7 linked regions of the Homo sapiens genome follow. The protein of the gene in region 7 interacts with the protein of the main gene of each other region in a pairwise test. Each region holds a gene or a part of one and is shown on either strand. Other genes may lie near its edges. The genes, in order: RUSC2, SH3GLB2, POLR1B, SAFB2, QPRT, KCTD5 and GIT2.

Region 1 (3,500 bases), on a different chromosome or scaffold from region 7:
GACATCCTGAAGTGCCCAAATGCTGCCCAGTTTTAGCTTAGAACCTTCACTACTGGGATCCACTAGAAAGTCTTCTCTTCCCAGTTTTACCTCTTATAGGCTAAAGCAAAGTTCTCTCTTGTTCAAGGTCTCCTGGTGCCAAGGACACAGAACCCATCCTGAGCTTCTCTGGTCTCTTGGCTGCACCGTGGCAGTGTGGCCTGCTCAAGTTCTAGTCTCCTGTGTTTCCACGTTCAGGTCGCAACAGTCTTCATTCCCTTCGACTCCTCACATGTAATGTTCCAAAATTCATTCATTTCCTTTCTCTTTTTATTCCTATCATTTCCTTTTCACTCACCCTGAGTCTAAATCCCTCATTGCCTTTCTCTTATTCATCATTTAACTGAATCCTTGACACAATCAATTTCTTAAAATTTAACTCATGTAGACCATAGGGTCATAGCTCGTCATGTGGAATGTGGTAAAGTCTGAGGCAAGTCACATATGCTCAAGGACATGAACAAACAATGCATAAAAAATATGGCTAATAAGTATACGTATAAGGGACAAGGTATTAAAATATAATTGTGTTAAATTTAAGCAGCAATTATTTACAATCTTGCTTCCTCCTCCCCTTTCTGAGAGGAAGGCAGGCTCCTCTGTTGAACTTCCAAGCCTTTGTGTGTTTAATGGGCTAATGGGTAGAGATGTAGAAGGGCAGATATTAAGAGAGTCTGAGCTACAAGATTAAGGGTTACAGAAGAAAACATAGGAGTAAATCTTTGTTATCTTGGATTAGGTGATGGTTTCTTAGATATGACACCAAAGGCACAAGTGACAAAAGAAAAAACATAAATTGGACTCCATAAGAACCAAAAACTTTTGTGCTTCAAAGGATACCACCAAGAAAGTGAAAAGACAATCCATAAAATGGGAGAAAATATTTGCAAATCATATACCTGATAAAAGACTTCTAATCAGAATATATAAAGAACTCTTACAACTCAACAATAAAAAGACATACGAGGCTGGGCACAGTGGCTCACGCCCGTAATCCTAACACTTTGGGAGGCCGAGGTGGGAGAATCATGAGGTCAGGAGACAGAGACCATCCTGGCCGACATGGTGAAATCCCATCTCTACTAAAAATATAAAAATTAGCTGGGCGTGGTAGTGCATGCCTGTAATCCCAGCTACTTGGGAGGCTGAGGCAGGAGAATCGCTTGAACTAGAGAGTCAGAGGTTGCAGTGAGCTGAGATCATGCCACAGCACTCCAGCCTGGTGACAGAGTGAGACTCTGTCTCAAAAAAAAAAAAAAAAAAAGACATATGATCCAGTTTAAGACAGGGCAAACAGTATGAATAGGCATTTCTCTGAAGAAGACATACAAGTGTCTAACCAGCACATGAAAAGATGTTCAACATCATTAGTCATTAGAGTAATAAAAATCACAATGAGATACTACTTCACTCCAGCTGGGAGGGATAAAATAAGAAATACAGACAATAACAACTAGCAAATGTTGATGATGATATGAAGAAACTGGAACCCTGAAACATTGCCGGGAGTATTGTAAAATGGTGCAGCTACTTTGGAAAAGTCTGACAGTTTATCAAAATGTTAAACATAGTGTCATCACATGACCCAGCAACTGCACTCCTGGGTATATACCCAAGAAAAATGAAAACATATGTTCACACTAAAGCTTGTACACAAATGTTCATAACAGCATTATTCACAGTAGCCAAAAAATTGGGCACAATCGAAGCCAGTCACAAAGGGCTTTTGTGATGTTGTATGATTCCATTTATATGAAATGTCCAGAATAGGCAAATCCATAGAAATAGAATGTCCTGAAATCAGGCCAGGCGTGGTGGCTCATGCCTGTAATCCCAGCACTTTGGGAGGCTGAGGCGGGCGGATCATTTGAGGTCAAGAGTTCAAGACCAGCCTGGCCAACATGGTGAAGCCCTGTCTCTACTAAAAATACAAAAATTAGCCAGGTGTTTGTCACCATTTTTGTAAATAAACATGTCTGTATGCATAGAAGAAAATCTGTAACATGCAACAAACTGTTACCAGTGCCTATCACTGTTGAATGATTTGGATTATTTTTAATTTTATTCTTTTTGCTTCAGCTGTATTTTCTAATTTGTATGTAATAAATACCCATTTTATGCATAATTTAAGCAATTTTTTTCTTTTTTTTGAGACAGGTTCTCACTCTATCACCGAGGCTGGAGTGCAGTGGTGCGATCATGGCTCACTGCAGCCTCAGCCTCTTGGACTCAAGTGATCCACCTCAGCCTCCTGAGTAGCTAGGACCACAGGTGTGTGCCACCACGCCTGGCTAATTTCTGTATTTTTTGTAGAGACATGGTTTCTCCATGTTGCCAAGGCTGGTCTTGAACTCTTGGGCTCAAGTTATCCACCTGCCTTGGCCTTCCAAAGTGCTAGGATTACAGATGTGAGCCACCATGCCGGGCCTAAACAATTTTTTTTCTTTGAGGGGGTTTCTCCTTTCATACATAACTACGTTTCCCCTGGAGTCCTGGCCATAATCCCGAGTCTGGACTAAAAGGAGCATAGAGAACTTTCTTACATAGATAGCAGTAATTTTAGGGGTACCTATGGGTTGCAGCCATCACTGACCTTCAATGAGTACCTTTTCTTCCTTTTTAAAGCATTTTCAAGAGGCATTCACAAGTATCACATAAAAGAATGTATGATTCTGCCACAAAACCATTACCAGGACATACATGCATTAATATGGAAAAACTGATGTACAGATACAGAATGCAGAAAGCTGACTCTCTAAATCAGAGATGAAGAACACATGAGCGTGGGAGATGACGGAGCCCTTGGCTGGAGGGCACTGACAATTGTATTGTAATGTGATGTTGACATATCTATCTCCCAGACTGGAGCACAGTTCTGAGGTTGGAGACTGCAATACAGTGAACTCTGTGCTTGGAACACAGTAGGTGCCTGGTTATTTGTTGACTACTTTTCCCATTAAAATAACCTGAGTTGTTAGTCTTTTTATGATTGAATTATAGGAGTTTTAACATTTATTCTGGATACAAGTCCTCTGTCAGATATATGCCTCATGAATATTTTCTCTCAGCCTGTGGCTTGTCCCTGTTTTCTTAACTGTGTTTTTTGATAAATAGTTTTTAATTTATTAAATTTAAATTGATCAATTGATCAACTGATCATAGAGTTTGTTTCTCTATGGTTAAATCTTTCTGTATCCTAAGAAATCTTTACCTGTCCTAAGACCATAAAGAAATGTACCTATGTTTTCTTCTAAAAGCTGTATAGTTGTAGCTTTTACATTTAGGTTGTATTGAATCCTACTTTAACTGTCAAGCTCTTTCACTGATTGATTTCATTTTATTTTATGCTTTTGTATCTCAGAGAAGATCTTATTCCTTTCTGATCTCCACACAACCAAGAGAAAGGCCGAGCAATGGCTCCTCCATAGACGATTCCAATTCAGCCATCTAAGGGGAAGTTC
Region 2 (3,500 bases), on a different chromosome or scaffold from region 7:
GCCTGTAGTCCCAGCTATTCAGGAGGCTGAGGCAGGAGAATCGCTTGAACCCAGGAGGCAAGGGTTGCAGTGAGCCAAGATTGCACCATTGCACTCCAGAATGGGTGACAGAGCAAGACTCCACCTCAAAAAAAAAAAAAAAAAAACCAACAGAGTGACCAACCAGGTGTGTGTTTTGCCTGCCTCTTCTCCCACGTGTGTTTTAGCTTCCAGGCATTTTAACTCTTCTGTGCAAAACTCAGTGTTTCCACTGCCCTGGAGTGTCTGGCAGCCCAACACAGAGTCCCCCATTTTCTTTTAACTGTCCCTCTTCAACAGCCTTGAGCCCAAGAGTCTAGCTGAAACCCCGGCTGCAGCCCCGCCCCACCTATGCCACAACAGGGCCAGGCCTCCTACTGTATCCCTGCCCCACGACTACATCCCTCCCCGGGCCCACGAACACGCACTCACTGGGGTTGGGCTGCAGCAGCACCTCTGTCTGCCTCAAGATCTTCTCTGTCCAGTTCTTGGTGCTGTCTGCCCGGGCCAGAAGGTTTTCAAAGTGGGCATCAAGCTCAGTCTTCTCAGCCTGGCCAAATTTCTCCTCCGTGAACTACGCAGAGGGGAAGGCCAAGGGGTGGGGAGGGGGAGAGCTCAGAAGGAGGTGGGGGAGTGGTGGGGAAAGGGAGGACTGCCCCTCCCCACCAGCAGGAACCCAGGCAGGCCCCAGGGTCAAGGAACCAGCCCTGAGTGTGATACTGTGTGACCTGGCAGGGCCTCACTGTTTTCCCCTTTGTGAAATGAGGTGGCTGGGCCAGAGTGTGGGAATCACAGCTTCTTTTGGAAATCCAATGAAAGCTACACTCTCTCCCCACAAAAATGCACCTTCATATACAATCTGGCACACAGCTTAGTGCGGTGAGGAACCCTGGGGAGGCCAGCCCTAGGGTCCTTTGAGTCTGACTCTGAAGGAGAGGACTTGGTAGAAAGTACTCGGGACAAACAGGGCAGGGAGTAGGGTCTGGGGTTATCAGGGGGCTCCATGGGCAGCTGGGAGCTGCTAGGGAGAGGGTGCCAGAGGAGGGAGAGGAAGAACCCAGGGTCGGGGTTCAGAAGGACCTGATTCAAGTCTTAGTTCTGCCACTGTCAAGATGTGTGACTTTGGGCAAGGGGCTCTGCCTCTCTGAGCATTGGTTTCCTGAGCTGAAAAAAGGGAATAATAGCACCTCCCCCATAGGTTATGAGGATGAAAGAGGAAAGATGTGGGTTAGACATAAAGGCTGGGTCGGCTACAGTGCTGCTGCCCCACGTAAGGCACCGGTGCTATGAGCTGATGGGTGCAGAGACGTCTGGGAAGGAAGGGGAATGCAGGGAGGGAGGATGGCCAAACGGTTGGCTTTGGCCACCTGGTAGGGTAGATGGAAACACTGCCAGCCTATCAGAGCCAGCGGCTGGGCACACCCAGGGCCCGGATGTCGCATGGGTCCCCATCAAAGCTGGCAGAAGCCGTGGGGGCTACCTAGGAACAACCAGAAACTGGTCCAAGTCCTGGCCCCTCTGATCTAAGAGGGCCCTGGAACACATGTCCCCATTTTCCAAACGGGGACACCAAGGCCTTCTCTAGCTAAGAGAAAGGGCTTGCCCAAGGTCACAGCCAGGGTGAAGACCTGCAGGAGTAAGATAAGGAACAACAAACACTGTTGGCCAGCCCTGTCCTAAGGGTTTCCTCATGACCTCATCAACCTCTAATGCAAGGAGGGCTGTTTCCCATTTCACAGATGCTGCCACTGAGGCTGAGCAAGGGGCAGGGCCACGCAGGAGTCGGTCAGCCATGAATCATCCCTGGCTGCAGTTGGCTCCAGCTGCGGTGGGGGGTGGCGGGCTGGGCGGCCACCAGGAGCTCAGCAGCCATCAATTATGTAGCAGAGCTTGGGTTTCTCCCTGCAGGGCTGGGAGGGCCCAGCTGCCAGGGGTATGGCCTCAGCTCCTGCCTGGGGCCAGCTGCTCCTGGCCTCCCTCCCCCACCCTGGCTGGCTCTGCCTCCTCTTCCTCGTCACACTCCCCAAAATGAGACCTTCCAGAGCAGAGGCTCAGATTTCCTCGTGGCTCTATTACCTCACCCAGTCCTTTGAGGGGGGTGGCGTTCACCCCATTTCCCAAATGAGGAAACCAAGGCTCGAAGAGGCAAAGTCTCCCTTCTGGACCTGAGAGCCCCTGCCTGGAGAATGCAGATAACAGGATCTAGTTCATTGGCTATTTGGCCAGCACACAGTATGGGGCTGATACATGTTAGCTAGTATTATTATCACCATCATTAATGAAAAGCCTTGGCTAGGTGCAGTGGCTCATGCCTATAATCCCAGCACTTTGGAAGGCCGATGTGGGCAGATGGATTGAGCCCAGGAGTTCAAGACCAGCCTGGGCAACCGTGAGACCTCCTCTCTACAAAAAAAAAAAAAAAAAAAAAAAAGCCCGGCACGGTGGCTTATGCCTATAATCCCAGCACTTTGGGAGGCCAAGGCAGGCGGATCACGAGGTCAGGAGATCGAGACCATCCTGGCTAGCAAGGTGAAACCCCTTCTCTACTAAAAATACAAAAAATTAGCCGGGTGTGGTGGCGGGCACGTGTAGACCCAGTAACTCGGGAGGCTGAGGCAGGAGAATGGCATGAACCTGGGAGGCGGAGCTTGCAATGAGCATCGCCCCACTGCACTCCAGCCTGGGCCACAGAGTGCGACTCAGTCTCAAAAAAAAAAAAAAAAATTAGCTGGGCGTGGTGGCACCCACCTGTAGTCCCAGCTACTCAAGGGGCTGAGGTGGGAGCCCAGGAGGCGGAGGTTGCAATGAGCCAATATCATGTCACTGCACTCCAGCCTGGGTGACAGACCAAGAACCTGCCTTAAAAAAAGAAAGACTTTGGGAGGCCGAGGTGGGCGGATCACGAGGTCAGGAGATCAAGACCATCCTGGCTAACACGGTGAAACCCCATCTCTACTAAAAATACAAAAAATTAGCCAAGCGTGGTGGCAGGCGCCTGTAATCCCAGCTACTCGGGAGGCTGAGCCAGGAGAATGGCATCAACCTGGGAGGTGGAGCTTGCAGTGAGCCGAGATCACGCCACTGCACTCCAGCCTGGGTGACAGAGCGAGACTCCATCTCAAAAAAAAAAAAAGACAGCAAGGAAGCCAGGCATGGTGGCTCACGCCTGTAATCCCAGCACTTTGGGAGGCCAAGGCAGGTGAATCACGTGAGGTCAGGAGTTCGAGACCAGCCTGGCTAACATAGTAAAACCCCATCTCTACTAAAAATACAAGAATTAGCATGACGTGGTGGTGGGCGCCTGTAATCCCACCTACTCGGGAGGCTGAGGCAGGAGAATTGCTTGAACCGGGGAGGCGGAGGCTGCAGTGAGCTGAGACTGCGCCAGCCTGCGTGACAGAGTGACTCCGTCTCAAAAAAAAAAAAAAAAAGGCCAGGCATGGTGGCTCATACCTGTAATATCAGCACTTTGGGAGGCCGAG
Region 3 (3,500 bases), on a different chromosome or scaffold from region 7:
ACTGGACAGCACCAGTATGGAGCTGGCTTCTTTAGTAATTATACAGTGGTTATATAAGACAAAGTCCTTGCTTTGGAGAAATAAAGTGATACAATCCCTGCAACTTTCAGGGATTGTACAGAAAGAAAAATGTACATCTGTGTACACAGAAAGTAAAAAAGTAAATGTAAATGAATGAAATGTTCACAATTAGAATCCAATGTACTATTTGGACATTATTCTGGAAGTCTGAAATTATTTCAAAATAAAAGTTAAAAAGTACTATAAAATAAAACACGACTACTAAAAAAATACAAGTGAGGAGGGCCGCAAAAACAAAGGTAGCCCCCGGCTAGCAAGGACCAGGATTCTACCCCAAGATTCATTCTCATTCCCAAATGACTCGCCCGCCCAAACTGCAACCAATACAAAGAACCACTGACAGCCCTCCGCCCCTCCAAAAACAGTTTAGACAAAGCACACATACTTAAACAGGAACTCCGCAGCTTGCTCATTTGGGTACCAGTCAGGAACATTGAGTTTTACTCTGAAGCATTCACCTAGGTAGTTAAGGACCTGTTTTTGTGTCGAACAACCCTCTTCCATTACAATCCTTAACATCTGAGAAACAGAGTTCCTAAGGAAAGAATCATCCTCTTTTCCTTTGATGAGCTCCTGAAAGATCTGATAATCAGAAAAGCTGACAAGTGCCTAGAATAGAAAATAAAAGGTTTAATTGCTCACTAATAACTAAAATACTTTATCTATTCACTAATAATTATCTTCTCTCATTTTTTTAATACCCAAGGAAAATTAGCACTCTGCTATTGCTGAATCAAAGTAAACTCTCTAAAATAAAGCATTCTTTGTATGATAGCCAGACAGCACAATTGCCTCCAGGGTCCTCATCTCCTGGTGTTCACAAACGTGTAGTTTCCTCCCATGCCGAATCAAGGCTGGCCTGCTTGACCAAGAGAATGTGGTGAAAAAGATAATGGGAGACTCCCAGGGCTAGATCACAAAGGGCACTGCAGCTTTTTCCTTCTGCATCTTCTGCTCTCTGTTCTCTCAGCTAACTATATGGAGGAAGACAGTTGCCTCAAGCAGCCTACAGAAAGGGCCATGTAGAGAGCAACCCCATGAGGAGACCTCCTGCCACCAACCAGCAGATTTGCCAGCCATGTGAGTGAGCCACCTTGGAAGTCCTGAAAATGACTGCAGTCCTGTCTGACATCTCCATGCAACCTCCTGAGACCCTGGGCCACAAGTGCCCAGCCAAAGCACTCCCAAACTCCCGACCCGCAGAAACTGTGAGACAGAAATGTTATTGAGTTTTAAGCTATTGAATTTTGACGTAATTTGTTTTGGAGCAGTAGACAACTAGTACAGTATTATTTTAACAAGGAGAATCCATCCAATGTGCACAGGATACTACCCCCAGTGAATTTCTTCATAACAAAAGAATGCATTCATTAAGTCATACCTTAAGTGCAAATCCCAAAGGAAGAAAGAACAGTTCTTTTCGGTAAATAAAGTTCAACATAACAGTGCCATTTTCCAAGTAGTGGAGGTTCATATTGACAGCGGAATGTTCTTCCCTCACACAGTGCATTGAAACTCCTATTGAACCAAACAACAAAAAAATCAGAAACTCATTGATATCTTAATTGCTTCAACCATTTTCTTTCTGAACAATCTTAACCTCTTAGACACAATTAAAGCCAAATCACTAAGTTTAGCCAAGACTGGCAATCAAAAATGTTTCTAAACCTCAGCAAATGTCCTCTTGCATGCAAAATCTACCCAGATTGAGAAACACTAATGTAAAATAACCGAAACTATGAATTTAAGCAAACTTCAAAGTTTCCCTCCAGGACAGAGTCCACATCTTTTAGCACTTTATATCTGCCTTAAACTGTGGAGTCTGGTCAAGACATGGTGCTTGATCTAATAGTTCCAATGGAGAAAAGTAGAATTTTAGATTTTATTTCAGTTTCAGGCAAAGACTGCTAAGACATACTACCATCAACTGATGCAAAAGAAAATCACTAGACATTCAGGCATGCTGTTTTTCTAGGTATAGTATGTATGGCTATAATTAAGGTCTGATTTTTAGCTCAACTATCAGGACAAATTGTTTAACTGTCAGGGTTGCTCAAGAATACAACATGCTGTCTTAGGCATTGTCAAAGAGAATGTTCCAACAGAGGCCAGGTGGCTGTCAGACAGAGACCCTGAGGGGTGTACCACAGTGGCCTGAACCAGAAGACATCCAAGGCCCACATTCACCTATGGCCAAGCCAGACTAGCTTCCATCTTCATAAGTAGTAACAAAAATACACATGCTCTTTCAGTTTGCAAAAGTGCAGCAGCCTGAACCAGAAGACAGCCAAGACCCACACCCACTTATGGCCAAGCCAGACTAGCTTTCATCTTCATAAGTAGTAACAAAAATACACATGCTCTTTCAGTTAGCAAAAGTGAATTTTAAAATGCTTATGATTGATAAAAATCATATATATTCAAGGTGTACAATACCTTGAATATACATATACATATATTATAATGATTTCCACAATCAAACTGATGAAAACATCAATCACCATAGTTATCATTTGTAGTACGTGTGCACGCGTGTGTGGTTGAGACACTTAAAATGTACTCATCAATTTTAAGCAGTACAGTATTACTATCATCACCAGGCTGTACATCAGATCCCCAGAACTTATTCATCTTGTAACTGCAAGTCTGTATCCTCTGACTAACATCTCTCCATTTCTTCTTCCATCCCAATTATGAAAACTTAACACAAGAATGCTCAATAGAAAAACAACAAAAAACAAAAGAAAGACCAGACACGGTGGCTCATGCATGTAATCTCAGCACTTTGGGAGGCTGAGGCAGAAGGACTGCTTGAGCCCAAGAGTTCGAGATCAGCCTGGGCAACGTGGTGAAACCCCATCCCTACCAAAAAAAAAAAAAAAAAGAAACAAAAATATCAAAGACCATTTGGATGCATCTACTTCAAAAAAAAAAAAAGTTTTAAATTTTCCTTAAAAAATATTCTAATAATCTCCAGAACTTACCATACTGAGTATAACCAGGCCCTCTGGTTTTCCATTTTGGTCTTATCATTGCAATGGGAAAATTTCTCCGAGGCATAATCAACATTCGGATGACTTTTTCAATGCCATTGATTATAAAATAGCCCCCCATTTCCTGCCAAAAAGATGAATTGCAACTTGTTAAACAAAGATACATGACTAACTGTAAACATGAACCTCACTCCTAGCCAAAGGTAGTACAACACACAGAATAGGAACACAGAGGTGAAATGTACTACTGATCCCTTGAAAACAGTACACAGACACTGTCTTTGTGTGAATTAACAGTTTTCTCAAGTATATTACAAAGGTCCTAGGGACATGGGAAAAAAGTATGGAAGAAAAACAGGGTACTTCTCTTTATCAGACAGGCTCAACCTATCTTGCCTTTCTGTCCCCTAAAATGACTTCAGTCTT
Region 4 (3,500 bases), on a different chromosome or scaffold from region 7:
GCCTCGAACCCTCCCGCCTGCAAAAGGAAAAGATCCCGTTCAAACAGCACCAGGCACGACTACACATTTCTGCAGGTCAGGCAAGTTTCGCGACTGGGATACTTTTTCCATCCCATCACATAAAAACTATAACTGGCCTGGGAAAAAAGGAAAAAGCTAGCTCAAATCGAAAGGCTTTTCCCCGGGGGCAGAAACGAAGTTGGATCCTAAAGAGGTAGGAATAAAGATCTCACTGAACTAAAATTCCTCGGGGAGCTCTCAGTTAGGGGAACAGGGACAAACAGAGGCCTCCAATGATCCCTCATCTTTGGTCTGACCCAATGCGTGGGACTCATCAAAATTCACACCAACTCCACCCCAAACTCCAGCAGAATTAAGAGTGTGGCCTCTCAGCCTCCCTTTCCTGTTCTCCCCGCTCTGACATTCCGACTGAAGGAGCCAATGAATGGGGAAATGGGTCAGAGATGTGCAGCCGAGGGGAGCCCAAAGACAGGATTCTTACACTGGAAAACCAAGGGCTGCCTTTTTAATAAACTAGATGTATTCCTCATTTTAAAAGGCTAAAAAACCCACCCAGACCCTCGAAATACAAAACAGGCCTCATGAGAAATTTTGCACGTCCTCCATCAATTCTCTGGTAGCTCTTGGGCACAACCAGGTTGTGCTGACAAACACTGCTGCCTCACAAGAGAGCTCAGTGTAGATGGCCTGCACTCAGGCCCCTCCTGGCCCACCTATGAAAAGAGTCGGTGGATGGAATGAGCTCTGAGATGCCTTCCTCTGAGGTAAGCTGGGGATTCCAGCAACTCGCTCAAGTTCTGTGCAAGGCCAGAGTCATCCACTGTGGATCTCAGAAGTAAACGAGGCTTCAGAGCACACAGGAACCCCTGCACTGGGCTGAGAACGAGGTCAGCTGGATGCCCCGGTGCCCACAATGACTGTAGCTAAAGGAGGGGACAAGACCACTGACCTGTCGATGGCGTGGTCCTGGTACTGGCCCCGGTCTCGATGATCGAAGTCGTGAAAGCGGTGGTCTGGCCGGGGAAAGTCTGCACGATATCGGTCCTCCATTGCCACACGCTTTCCTTCTGGCCAATAGGCATCATCTCGTCTGTTGGTTTTTATTTTAAAAGAATACAAATTCCATTAATGAGAGAGGAGGAGGAAAAAAGGAGGAGGTGGAGGTGGGGAGGGGAGCTCTCTCCCCAGACCCAGTATCGTTTAAAATGTCCTGCAGGGCTAATCTCTAAACATTCGATCATCATTGCTTTGATCTGATAAATTAAAACCGCCATTAACAGCCGAGAGGCACACTTGTGTTCTCATCCAACAGTCCCAAAAGGAGCACTGCTGTGAGCTCATTGTCTCGTGAGGCTGTTATTACCTTGATCCCCCCTCATGAGCAACTGAAAAGAAATATTTGATTCTTCTGGAATAGCATTCGAGTTGCCACACTTTTACTTTCCCTGCCTTCCACGGGAGCCTGAATCTCCCTCTGAGTTTCTTGCAAAAGCAAAGAGAATTAGATGGGGTGATAGTGAACTACACACAGCTCTGGACGGCATCCAATTATCTTCTTCCTGATTTTTACCAGAAAACTAGGCTCACGGAGAGCGGGGTGAAGGGTGACTGTCAATTAAGCCGCCTGGGGTAGCTAGAGACCAATAAACCTACTTTCTAAATCAGAGGCAATTTCCTTTTCCACAGCGCCTGCTCTGCCTCTCTGTCTACAAGGACACATGAGACCGGCAGAGTCAGCGGTGGCCAACTTGGGCCTAACGGGCGTTCGGTTGTCTCGCAAGACAGAGAACAGCTATGCTCCACGGGTAAGTGGAGAGGAAAAGCATCACAAACCCTTCAGCAAGTGGCAGCCATCAAGTTTCCCAGAATAACTCAAGTTCAGGAAGATGCTACACAGCCTCCGGTGAGGACAGCGAACTAATAAACCTGCAGCAGCGCAGTGAGATCGGCGGGGGGTCCCCAAGGCGCATGCTCCATATCAAATTTCATTCTCCCCACCGACAGGGACGGAAGGGAAGCCGCTGTTCTGCTGGAAGGGTGAACACCGCTGCCACGCTGGTCTCCGTCCTGCCCACGCTCTGGGCGGGACTCACCGGTCCAGGTCGTAGGGCCTCCGCCCGGGCCGCCGCTCCTGCTCGTAACGCAGCTGCTCCTGCTGGCGCCGCAGCTCCTCGCGCTCGCGGTGGATGCGCTCCTGCTCCTTCCTGCGCTCACGCTCCACGCGCATGCGCTCGCGCTCCAGCCGCTCCCGCTCCATGCGCTCCCGCTCCAGCCGCTGGCGCTGGCACTCGAGCTGCAGGCGTTCCCGCTGTAGCCGGGCCTTCTCCTTCCGCTCATGGAAGGCCTCGAGGCGTTGCTCCCGCTCCCGCTGCTCGCGCTCCCTGCGGGGACAGGTGAGGCTGCCCTGAACTCCCTGCGTGAGCCTCCAAGGAGAAAGCCCGGTGCCCAAAACTGGGTGTGTATTGGAAGCAGAAAAAAAAAATGGATCCAAAAGCTCACCGGGCTTCCCTAAAGCTGCGCGTGCAGGGGGTTACCTTACTTAACAAAGCTACCTTAAGAAAAGCAAAGGCAGCACAGCTGGCAACATTTCTAGGTTTGCTCGAGAACATTTTCCAAATGCTGTGAGCACAGCTTTTGCTTTACTGAGCAATATTTGAGGAAAAGTGACAAGAGAACGCCGGGCATCCCGACATGAAAAGGCCGAATGTCAAGGCAGAGGGACAAGCCTCCTTCAAGACCACAGCCCAGAAGGGAGCCGCGGCAAAATGACAACTGGACTCTGCTTGCAGTTTCTGACCTTAGGTGAAAGGTTTCAACAGGGAAGACAGGCCTCAGCACCCAGGCACCATCCCATCCCATCAAAGCCACACACGGCTGGGCCTTCCACACGGGCCAAGGTCCAACATCAGAGGAGGGGCGAAAATAGACTTTGAGCCAGCAGAAGGCTCAGCCTGTAATCCAGCACTTAGGGAGGCTGACGCAGGAGGATCGCTTGGGCCCAGCAGTTATCAGCCTGGCAACATAGCCAAACCCCATATACTGTAAAGGGCTTTGATGACTTCTTTTTAAGAGACAGGGTCTCACTCTGTCACCCAGTCTGCAGTGCACTGTTGTGATCACAGCTCACTGCAGCCTTGAGCTTCTGGGCTCCAGCAATCCTCCCACCTCAACCTCCTGAGTAGCTGGGACTACAAGTGCACGCCACCATGCCCAGCTAATTTTTAAATATTTTGTAGAGGTGGGGTCTCGCTACATTGCCTAGGATGGTCTTGAACTCCTGGCTTCAGGGGATCCTCTGGCCCTGGCATCCCAAAGTGCTCGGATTACAGGTGTGAGCCACTGCACCTGGCCCTTTGATGACTTTCATGCCACCTGGCATGTCTGGCGGCTCACGTGTGAACAGGTGCTGGCCCCTGCCTCGAGGACCCAGGTTAAGCACGACACCCGCCAGCCCAGGCACTGGCTCTCGGGCACACAGA
Region 5 (3,500 bases), on a different chromosome or scaffold from region 7:
CCACCACACCTGGCTAATTAAAATAAATTTTTTTTTTTTTTAGAGATGGGTTCTTGCTGTGTTGCCCAGGCTGGTCTCAAACTCCCAGCCTCAAGCGATCCTCCAACCTCAGCCTCCCAAAAGTGTTGGGATTACAGGCATGAGCCACCGTGCCTGGCTCAAATCTTTTCATATGTGAACATCTCAGCATGTTTTCTTTCTTTCTTTTTTGAGATGGAGTTTCGCTCTTGTTGCCCAGACTGGAGTATAATGGCGTGATCTTGGCTCACTGCAACCTCTGCCTCCCAGGTTCAAGTGATTCTCCTGCCTCACTCTCCCAAGTAGCTGGGGATACAGGTGCCCACCACCATGCCCAGCTAATTTTTTTGCATTTTTTTTTTTAGTAGAGATGGGTTTTGCCGTGCTGGCCAGGCTGGTCTTGAACTCCTCACCTCAGGTGATCCACCCACCTTGGCCTCCCAAAGTGCTGGGATTACAGGCGCAAGTCACTGCGCCCAGCCTCATCATGTTTTTTTCTTAAAAGATAAAGACTTTTCTTTTTACTACAACCACAATACTATTGTCAAAACTAAACTTTAAAAATTTCCTTGGTGTTATCAAACATTCAATGTCCAGATTCCAGTGGTTTCATAAATAGCCTAATTTGCTTTTAGTTTGTTTGAATTAGGATCTAAGTAAAATCTACACTTTGTGATTGGTTAGTATGTTTTAAGAGTCTTTGAAACTTTATTTTTTTGATTAAAAAATGTTTAATTTAGAGATAGGGGTCTCACTATATTGCACAGGCTGGTCTCAAATGCCCCAAAGTGCTGGGATTACAGGTATGAGCCACCACACCTGACTGATTCTTTTTTTTTTTTTTTGAGATGGAATCTCACTCTGTTGCCCAGGCTGGAGTGCAGTGGCGCAACCTCGGCTCACTGCAACCTCCGCCTCCCAGATTCAAGCGATTCTCTCACCCCAGTCTCCCGAGTAGCTGGGATTACAGGCGTGCACCACCACACATGGATAAATTTTGTATTTTTTTAGTAGAGACAGCGCTTCACCATGTTGTCCAGGCTGGTCTCGAACTCCTGACCTAAGGTGATCTTAGGCCCACCTTGGCCTCCCAAAGTGCTGGGATTACAGGTGTGACCACCACGCCCAGCCAATATGTGGTCTTATGAGAGCATTGGTTCTTTTTTTTTTTTCCCTGAGGCAGGGTCTCACCCTGTTGCCTAGGCCAGAGTGCAGTAGCTCCATCATAGCTCACTGCAGCCTCCAACTCCTGGACTCAAGGGATCCTCCCACTTCAGCCTTCTGAATAGCTAGGACTACAGGCGTGTGTCACCATGCCCAGCTAATTTTTAAAATTGTTTTTGTAGAGATGGGTTCTCACTATGCTGCCCAGGCTGGTCTCAAACTCCTGGCCTCAAGCGATCCTTCTGCCTCGGCCTCCCAAAGTGTTGGGATTACAGGCATGAGCCACCGCCCCTGGCCGAGCATTGATTCTTGATCCTCATGTGCATCTGAGTCACAGAGCAGGGTGGGGGCTGGCTCTTCCCCAACCTGGATCCCTGGAAACTACCCCCAGAGATTCTGGTTCACTGGGTTGGAATGGGCCTGAGCATCTGAAAGTTTGAAAAGCTCCCTGTGATTCTGGTGTGCAGCCCAGGCAGAGGCCCCACTGTGTCCACTTCTCTTGAAAGGAGTGGTTCACACCAACACCCCCACTTCCCTACCTCCCGTGCGCTCCTCGAGCATGACAATGTGGCTTCTGCCCCCGACACATGGCACAAAAACCGCTCTGGCACAGGCCTCACAGTTGCTAAGTGCAGAGCCCCATCCTCAGTCTTCCTTCTATTTACTTCTGCTCACCTCCCAAAACCCTCTTCTCCTTCCCAGGTACCCACTCCTGATGATGCTTCTCTTTTTGTTGGACATGCCCTGTGGGTTCTTTATCTTATTATTTTATTTTAGAGACCGTGGCTTGCTCTGTCACCCAGGCTGGAGTGCAGTGGTGCAATCACAGGTCACTGCAGCCTCCAACTCCTGGACTCAAGCCGCAGCCTCCCGAGTAGCTGGCGAGTAGCTGGGACTACAGGCGTGCACCCCCATGCCCAGCTAACTTTTTCTTTTTTTCTTTTGTTTTTTGAGACGGAGTTTTGCTCTTGTTGCCCAGGCTGGAGAGCAATGGCACTATCTCGGCTTACTGCAACCTCTGCCTCCCAGGTTCAAGCGATTCTCCTGCCTCAGCCTCCTGAGTAGCTGGGATCACAGGCGCCCACCACCACGCCTGGCTAATTTTTGTATTTTTAGTAGAGACGGGGTTTTGCTATGTTGGCCCCGGAGTTCAATTTTTGTATTTTTAGTAGAGACGGGGTTTCACCGTTTTCACCAGGATGGTCTTGATCTCCTGACCTCGTGATCCTCCCGCCTCGGCCTCCCAAAGCGCTGGGATTACAGGCGTGAGCCACCGCGCCTGGCCACGGCAGCATCTCTTCTGAACTCCAGAGCCATTCCCTACCACCCTCTGGGCACCACCATCCACATCTCCTGCTGCCGCCTCAGCCTTAACCTCTGCAAAACCAAATCCGTTCTTTCTCTCGAGCTCTGCAGAAGCTAAGCTGTTTCACCAGGCCACGATTCAGGAAACGCTTTGGGATTCAGCTTCTGTTCTTGTGAAATGGGAAGAATCCCTGTGGTGAGCTCCAGATGAGAGCACAAAGGGGAACAGGGGTGCCCGCGGCTGGCACGCCATGGCTGGCACGCCATGGCACTCAGTGGGGTCACCGCCCCCTCCTGCTGTCCCACCTCCACCCTGCCTGCTCTTCTCCTGGAATGACTCCTTCTGCCAGCTCTCAGCTACCCAGGCCAGAGGCCCAAGGCTCCCACATCTCTTTAGCTACTAATTCTGGTAGATCCCCTTTTGGAAATAGCCCTCAAATCTACCCCAGAGCTACTGTCAAAGTTCAGGGCTCCATCTCTTTTGGTTTTTTTGAAAATATTTTTTCAAATTAATTATTTGTTGGCCGGGCGCAGTGGCTCACACCTGTAATCCCAGCACTTTGGAAGGCCGAGGCAGGTGGATCACCTGAGGTCAAGAGTTCAAGAACCAGCCTGACCAACATGGTGAAACCCCATCTCTACAAAAATACAAAAATTAGCCAGGGATGATGCTGCATGCCTGTAATCCCAGCTACTCGGGAGGCTGAGGCGGGAGAACCACTTGAACCCGGGAGGCAGAGGTTGCAGTGAGTTGAGATCACACCATTGCACTCCAGCCCAGGCGACAGTGAGACTCCGTCTCAAACAAAAAAAAATTATTTGTGGAGGCAGGGTCCCACTATGTTGCCCAGGCCTCAAGTGGCCCTCCTGCCTTGGCCTCCCATAGCACTGGGATTACAGGTGACAGCCACCGCGCCCAGCCTACTTTTTGTCTGGCCAAGACTACCTCAGCCTTCTTTTGCCTCCCAATCTGTCTCCAGTTGGTGGCTGAAGTGACCCTTCTGGAGCAAAAC
Region 6 (3,500 bases), on a different chromosome or scaffold from region 7:
ACAATTGGCAAGTGGAAGACCAGCTGCAGAGGGAAGCTACCCTCTCTGCTGAGAGCTGGGAAGTCAATGGAGAGGAGCCAGCCAGTCCGGGGCCGCTTCTCTGCTGAGAGCTGCCAACTGAATGAGCCGACCTGCCTACAGAGAGGAGCTGCCCCCACAGTCTCCTCTGCACTGTCCCAACACTTGGTAAAGCTTCTCTTCGTCATGCTCACCCTCCACTTGTCTGCTACCTCATTCTTCCTGGACGCAGAACAGGAACTTGGACAAAGGTGCTGCCGGCCAGAGACGTTTCTGGCCAGAAAAGCGACACCCTAAAGACACCGTATCAGCAGGGCTGGGCACATCCAGACACAGGGACGTGGAGCTTTGCAAGGCCAAGTTTACCAGCCGGAGCCATGGCACCTTTCCAGGGTGCCTGAAGAGAGATCCTGCTGGCAGTGAGAGCTCTGGCCACAGTGGCTAGGCTCTGCCCAGCTCGTCTCAGTCCCTGGAGCTCAGGCTCCTGACAGAGGGACCAGGAAGCCCCCGGACGCACCTGTGTGGGAACCGCACGCCCCAGGAACCTTCCTGATGCGCTTTCCCTGCAGCCTGTGGCTCCAGCCCATCCCTGTGCTCAGGGGCCAGCAGCCTGGGTGCAAAATACCCAGCCATCAAAGGCAGGGGAGGCTGAGGCACCGCGGGGGACCCCACGTGCATCCAGTTAGGAAGAGACTTGAAAGGAGCAGCCTCTGGAAGACTTCCAGGAGTCCAGATGCTTGTTGCCAACCTCGCTGGGAGCCAAGGCTGCAGGGCAGAGGAGCAGAGAACCCCAGCTGCGTCTACCAAGAACCTGCCAGCCGCTCCACACCCCCGCCGCCCCAGTGCCTCCAGGACAGTGGGCTTCCTATGGGGCCCCCGCCACAGTACACTCCTCCCACGTGGTTCAATTCTCTGAGCCCCACGACCTCTGGGCCCATGCAGGACCTACCCAGGCTGCGTGGACTCGGCGCGCCGGGCCTGCAGCTGCCCCCACAGCCCTCTCCCGGAGTGACACTGCAGAGCCCTGCGTGGCCCTAGAACCCAGCTGAGCCGCCGGGCACCAGAGGCTGAAGGGCGAGCAGTAGGCTGAACCCTTGGTGGGAAATTCCAAAACTGGCTCTTCTGTGGCTGGCCTCACAGCTCTCCGGCCGTTTCTTCCCATGGGTTCCTTCTAACTGGTGGGTTTCCTCGAGAAACAGGCCCTGTCTGGGCAGAGCGGAAGGTCAGGGACATCCGCACCAGGGCGGGGAGGCAGTGGCGTGTGGAGGTGCTGCTCTCACCACTGCTCTCTTTGAAGCTTTCAATGAGAGATTTCCACATCCATAGGAAGTGCCAGGGTCTTAAACCAGGACCCCCAAATCCCACCAGGGTTCGGGTCTCGCTGTGGCCTGACTCGCTTCCAAGCATGTAGGCAGGGTCTTGGTGCTCCCAGCTCGGGTGAGCCCACATGTTCCAGATCGGCCTAATGTGTGCGGGGGCTACTCGTGGTGCCAGCCCAGGCCCAGACAGTGCCCAGCCCAGGCGCGAGGGCCTCGGCAGCTCACTGCTGGTGTTGGGGATGTGGATCAGCCTCCACCCTGATGCAGAAACAACAAAAAAATATGGAACATGGGAAAATGGGAAACACAAAATCATACAAAATTCAGGATATACTCCGAGGCTCATGGAGACAAAGGCAGCAAGGTCACCTCGGGGAGGTTTAGAACAGCGTCTGGGCCAACCTAGGCAGGGCCCCTGTGCTGCCCGTAAGGCCATCAGCGGCGCCTGCCCAAGCCCCCATGACACGAGGAAGGAAAGATGCCCCGGCCCGCTCACGCCTCTACGACTGGGATGAGGAGAGGCGGCCAGGAAGCCAGTGAGATGCTGCGGGCTGGGCGTGGGGGTGCTCTTCTTCCTGGCTTTCTCATACGTTCCACGGCTTACACAACCAGCACAGGCTGCGCTTGATCTCAGGAAGGTTCGTGGTGGTTTTTTTCTAAAACAGCCATAATTAAGACTGTTTTATTGACAAGTCATTTCCCTCATCTTCCCCGCGTCTCACTGAATTGGCATCTGACCTACTTGTGGCCGGGCCCAAGCTGGCATTGAGTGGGCCCAGCAGGCTGGGCTGAGCCACCCATCTCCAGAGGTCCCAGGCTTCAGCCGGAGCCACAGGACGTAGGCCGGGCAGGACAGTTGCCAAACCACAGAGGAGAGGGCGACCCTGGCCACGGGAGCACATGGCAGACAGCGCCGAGCCAGGGCACACACAGCCCTGGCAGACGGAGGAAGACTCCGCAGACAGAGCTGACTGCTCGCCCACTCCCCAGGTCCACAGGGCAGCCGCAGATGGACGTCTGGTCAGGAGAGCAACACTCAGAGAAGTGTGGTAACAAGACTGGCCGCTCTGCTCATCTCACCAGACTCCGGCTGCAGCTCTCCGCCATCCATGCTGTCACCCAGCAAAGCACCGGGGGCAACGTGGGGGTTCCCCAGCCTCTCAGGGACAGGTCCCTAATGCAACCAGCAGCCTTGAAAATGGCAGTGAAGGGCTGGGCACAGTGGCTTACGCCTGTGATCCCAGCACTTTGGGAGGCCAAGGCAGGCGGATTACCTGAGGTGAGGAGTTCAACACCAGCCTGACCAACATGGTGAAACCCTGTCTCTACTAAAAATACACAAATTAGCCAGGCATGGTGGAGGGTGCCTCTAATCCCAGCTACTAGGGAGGCTGAGGCAGGACAATCACTTGAACCTGACAGCCCCGTTGCAGTGAGCCAAAATTGTGCATTACACTCCAGCCTGGGCGATCCAGTGAGCCTCTGTCTCAAAAAAAAAAAAAGAAAAGAAAACGGCAGTGAGGAATGAGGGTGGAGACTGCCAGGCTCTCACGCCAGATTCTGAACCCAACATAACCCTGCTGCTGCCCAACCCTCCCGCAGCTCCCAGAGCTCTGCAAAGAGGGTCGGCCCTGCGGCTCTCAGTCATTCCCGGTGCTCGGAGACACGTGCCACCAGAGGGGAACGAAATCAAGAGGGTGCAGTGCCCTGAGCCAATCCAGGAGATAAACTCTGTCAAATTGCCCCACAGAAATCTAGACGCGAAGGCATAGAATTTCCTGTGCACCAACATCTGCAATCAACCTAATTAGAAATACTTAGTTTTTACTCTGAAATTATCCATTTCAAGTGACTCTGTTTCAATTTCGCACACAAAACCTTCACCTCTACTCTCTCTTCTGTTTTGTTTTATGCAGCTGTGGCATATCTTTGGCCCACAAGAGGACTTTGATGTCACCAATTACTAATGGGGAAACTGAGGCCAGAGACCAAGGAGGCTTGTCCAAGGCAGCCAGATTCGGAGAGCAGGGTGGGGCCCCTGTGCCCTGGTCGCCAGGCCTGCTGCCTCCCCACCACCCTTCCCTTCCATTGCTTCTCGGCCTCACCCAGCATAGAAACTGGAATTTGGGAGGTCCCTGCCCCACACATGACTCAAAGCTTAGT
Region 7 (3,500 bases):
ATCATTAAAACATCATTTAGGTAACTTGCTTTTCAAATGAGCCCTGAGCAATTTGTAAAGGCCAAAAATGACAGCAGACACCATGGAAGCAGCACAAAGATGACTAGGGTTGCTTTGCAAAGCAAGAAAGACAGAAGTTCAGCTTGTGAAAAATCAGATCGCCTATTGCTTTCCAAAAAGCCAACAAGAAAAATTATGATCAACAAGTTTTTATTACATAATACTCTTGATATTCCAAACAATTCAGCACTTTGTAAAAAAAAAAAGAAAAAAGAGAAAACCGGATCATGGTAAGTTTGCTATATTAACATATCACGAAGAAAACTGGAAACCTATTGATCTATGGAATTGACATCTTCGCATGGATGCTCCACGCAGCACGCTTGCTTCCGTCTGGTGAGTGATCATCTTTCGGCCAGGGCTGGAATATTTGGCCTTTCTCTCCTTTGGCTTTGTCACCCAAAAAACACGACCTCAGTGGTGTCAGCTTTGAACATGCTAATCTGCCTGGCACCACCCCATTTTAGAGACTGTCACTTGGAGGCCCTGAATGCTCCTTCCATTCCTCACATGCAGGCTGCTCCATGGTGCTGGATGGATTAGAGTTAAGGGGTCAGCAGGGAATCGTGTTACTCTTTGGCATCTGGCATTTTAAACACCATTCACCACGTCCATTCTGCGCAGGGTCCTTCCCTTCTGGTGCGCCTTCATCTTCCATGGACATTCTATAAGCTGGGTGTGGTGTGAGTTCAGCTGTCTACTCTTTGACAGAGATTGTAAAATCTGACCAAATTCCCCACCAGTGCCAAGGTTTAAGTCCACAAGCAACTGTTTGCACCAGAAGATCATTACTTTTTCAGTAGCAAACCCATTCAATGTTAGGAGTTACTTTCAATTTTTATTTAGAAAGCACCAATCTGTGAAAAATACACCAATAGTAGTTGCTCCTCTTCATTAATTAGCATCTTTTCCAAGCAACTGTTAAATGTGAAAGATCAGATACAAATCATGCTACTTTGTCAACTTTATGTATATTAAAAACTTTACCCAACTTTGAAATATAATCAATACATCTTTGCTAAATAAACAAATTCCATATACTTTATATTAATCATGCCAAACTGCTGTGAAAGTGTGACTTACTGCCTCTTCCACAAAAAGACCACTCATTCTGTTTCTCTGAAGAGCAAGCCATTACAGAATGATAGAATGCTTTTATATCACAAAGGCTGGCAGGGTATAGCTCATATCTGCAATTCCCTTTCCAGGGAAAGAACAGCTGCAAAGCAGCTGACAAAGCAGCCCTGAACATTTCTACATTCCAGGATACAGACAGGCATGAAGTGCCTGTTGAAACTATTCATTAGAGAACCCAGGGCCTAGAGTGAAATGGTCAAGGTTCAAGGACTGAGGTGTGTAACTGACACAGGTCCCTCAATGGGGCACTGGTGCATGTGATCACGTGTTTGTCTGTATAAAAAGCCTCTGTGGCAGTTATTTAGTTAAGGCCTTGAAATCTGAAACTTTATCCTAACACTTTTCATGCCTGGATTTTGTCTGAATGTGTTCTCATGAGCACAAGTTCTTGGTTTCAATTTTTAAAAATGTTAGTACTCTGTATTTAGAGAGATGTCTTCACATAAATTTTAATGACGTTTATCTTAATAAGAACCAGGCTACACTTTTTTATTTGGAAGGAGTATAAGGGAAAATAAAAAGTTATAGACAATTCAATAGTTTCAGAAATCAAAAGCACTTCTAAGAATTGATGAGATAATCAATAAGCAAAAGCAAATAATTTCACTTTGCATTTCTCAAAGAAGCTCAAGACATTTGCTTTCAGAGATAATGAGGCTCTCTCTGGTGATTTCCAAAAATACTAAAAGAAGCATTGTTAGATTTTAAAAGGTGATGTGCAGCAGATTGATTTACAGTGGCAAAATCAGCATGTTTCAGAAATAGTCACCTGGTCAAAATTATTAGTCCAATTAATGGAACAAACTATAATCCACTAAATAAAATATATTCCAAAGAAGGCAAAGAAAATACAGGTCCTGTATGTTATGACAAAGGGGCTCTCGGTCTGTCTCGTTTACAGCTGCACGGCAGCCCTAGACAGGGCTGGGAGACACAGAACAAGTGTCTGTTCGTTTAAGGCTAGCTGATCTTAAGCATTCTTCATTCCCTGCTACTATAGGCATTAGAGCCATTTATTTCAAAAAGTCTCAAAAATGCTCTAGAAGTCAACATCAAAAGAATCCTAGACCAAACCCCAGGCAAAAGTGCACAGCAATTTCCTTCCCTAGTAAACAGAGGGGCATGGGCCCCTTTTTAGTTCTTCCACCTTCCTTTAGGAAGCAGCACTGAAAAGAGTCCAGGCACACATGGAGTGTGCCACGTCCTCAGGTCTTGAAAATGATTTGAAAACCTTACTTCTCAAATGACAGCCTAAAGACATAGATTATATATTTCATTTTGTTTCTGGTTAAGTAAAGTGTCCAAATCTCATTTTAGAGCTGAATGATGAGTGATACCCACAAAGTCATGGGCAAAATTTGCAATTTTTCGAATTCCCTTATTTAGCCATCTCATAAGGAGTTGCATACACAATCCCCCTCCTACTAAGGGTATTCCTTGCTACCATCAACCACACTCCTTTTAGGGATTAATATATTCACACGGTTCTGATTCTCTCAAAAGGTAATGAATGAGAAAATGCTGAGCAAATGAGATTGTTTTTTACCAGTGTGCAGCTCTTCCTAGTACAAATGAAATGTTTTTTCTTATTTTTTGAGCACCTACTCTGTGGCAGGCCCTCCTGTAGGCTCTGGGGATAATACAAGTTAGTAGTAAAAACTGGTGAGCAATAAGGTGGGGATGTGGGATAGGGCTGCCAGGGTGGGAGCAGGGTTTGAATGCTGATAAACATGCCCCTGCCCAGGGCTCTCATTGGCTCTGTCTCCATGGTGTGATCATCCTTCCCTAGCAATGGGAAGAATCACATCCATGGAGCCCCATCCAGGTTTCCAGGAAGCACAGAATAGTCCAAGGGTTATTCTAATGGGCACAAATGCTTAAATAGATGTTAGGTTTCTCCTACCTGGGGAACTTACTCTGGATATATTTCATTTTAAATATCCAAATACATCCTGCTTCAAAAAGACAACTTGGCCCAAAGATTTCTAAGGCTGTTACAATAACTGTTTTTCTTTCCTCGGACCACATCACAGTGCCTGAGATTCTTCCTTGTACTATGGGATTAAAGCGTCAACCGTCCTGGCATTTATTAACATGTTACCTTTTTCTGCATAATTCTCAGCTCGTCACTCAAGTTGTTATTCACCTTCATTAGCTGCTGTATCTTGGCCTCAGAAGCCACTAGAGCGTTTTTGACCTCCATAAATTCCTGTACAGTGACTGGTCCATCTGATAAATCTGAATCTAGGCTCTAAAAATAAATTGGGAAAACGTTCACAATCTGAGATGACGAGAACATTAAA

What was found.
Region 1: the proteins of GIT2 (region 7) and RUSC2 interact in a two-hybrid assay, tested with the Homo sapiens proteins (one large-scale study listed by BioGRID and IntAct).
Region 2: the proteins of GIT2 (region 7) and SH3GLB2 interact in a two-hybrid assay, tested with the Homo sapiens proteins (one large-scale study listed by BioGRID and IntAct).
Region 3: the proteins of GIT2 (region 7) and POLR1B interact in a two-hybrid assay, tested with the Homo sapiens proteins (one large-scale study listed by BioGRID and IntAct).
Region 4: the proteins of GIT2 (region 7) and SAFB2 interact in a two-hybrid assay, tested with the Homo sapiens proteins (one large-scale study listed by BioGRID and IntAct).
Region 5: the proteins of GIT2 (region 7) and QPRT interact in a two-hybrid assay, tested with the Homo sapiens proteins (one large-scale study listed by BioGRID and IntAct).
Region 6: the proteins of GIT2 (region 7) and KCTD5 interact in a two-hybrid assay, tested with the Homo sapiens proteins (one large-scale study listed by BioGRID and IntAct).

What each region holds. Positions count from the first base shown.
Region 1 is NC_000009.12:35,542,111-35,545,610, reverse strand, and holds part of RUSC2 (AP-4 complex accessory subunit RUSC2), read right to left. Parts: intron 1-3,500. UniProt on the Homo sapiens protein: Associates with the adapter-like complex 4 (AP-4) and may therefore play a role in vesicular trafficking of proteins at the trans-Golgi network.
Region 2 is NC_000009.12:129,021,832-129,025,331, forward strand, and holds part of SH3GLB2 (endophilin-B2), read right to left. Parts: intron 593-3,500; coding exon 451-592; intron 1-450.
Region 3 is NC_000002.12:112,548,965-112,552,464, reverse strand, and holds part of POLR1B (DNA-directed RNA polymerase I subunit RPA2), read right to left. Parts: intron 3,199-3,500; coding exon 3,066-3,198; intron 1,600-3,065; coding exon 1,463-1,599; intron 691-1,462; coding exon 467-690; intron 1-466. UniProt on the Homo sapiens protein: Catalytic core component of RNA polymerase I (Pol I), a DNA-dependent RNA polymerase which synthesizes ribosomal RNA precursors using the four ribonucleoside triphosphates as substrates.
Region 4 is NC_000019.10:5,591,777-5,595,276, forward strand, and holds part of SAFB2 (scaffold attachment factor B2), read right to left. Parts: intron 2,403-3,500; coding exon 2,115-2,402; intron 1,112-2,114; coding exon 971-1,111; intron 18-970; coding exon 1-17. UniProt on the Homo sapiens protein: Binds to scaffold/matrix attachment region (S/MAR) DNA. Can function as an estrogen receptor corepressor and can also inhibit cell proliferation.
Region 5 is NC_000016.10:29,682,180-29,685,679, forward strand, and holds part of QPRT (nicotinate-nucleotide pyrophosphorylase [carboxylating]), read left to right. Parts: intron 1-3,500. UniProt on the Homo sapiens protein: Involved in the catabolism of quinolinic acid (QA).
Region 6 is NC_000016.10:2,689,023-2,692,522, reverse strand, and holds part of KCTD5 (BTB/POZ domain-containing protein KCTD5), read right to left. Parts: intron 1-3,500. UniProt on the Homo sapiens protein: Its interaction with CUL3 suggests that it may act as a substrate adapter in some E3 ligase complex. Does not affect the function of Kv channel Kv2.1/KCNB1, Kv1.2/KCNA2, Kv4.2/KCND2 and Kv3.4/KCNC4.
Region 7 is NC_000012.12:109,947,869-109,951,368, forward strand, and holds part of GIT2 (ARF GTPase-activating protein GIT2), read right to left. Parts: intron 3,449-3,500; coding exon 3,299-3,448; intron 979-3,298; coding exon of another isoform or gene 955-978; exon of another isoform or gene 1-954. UniProt on the Homo sapiens protein: GTPase-activating protein for ADP ribosylation factor family members, including ARF1.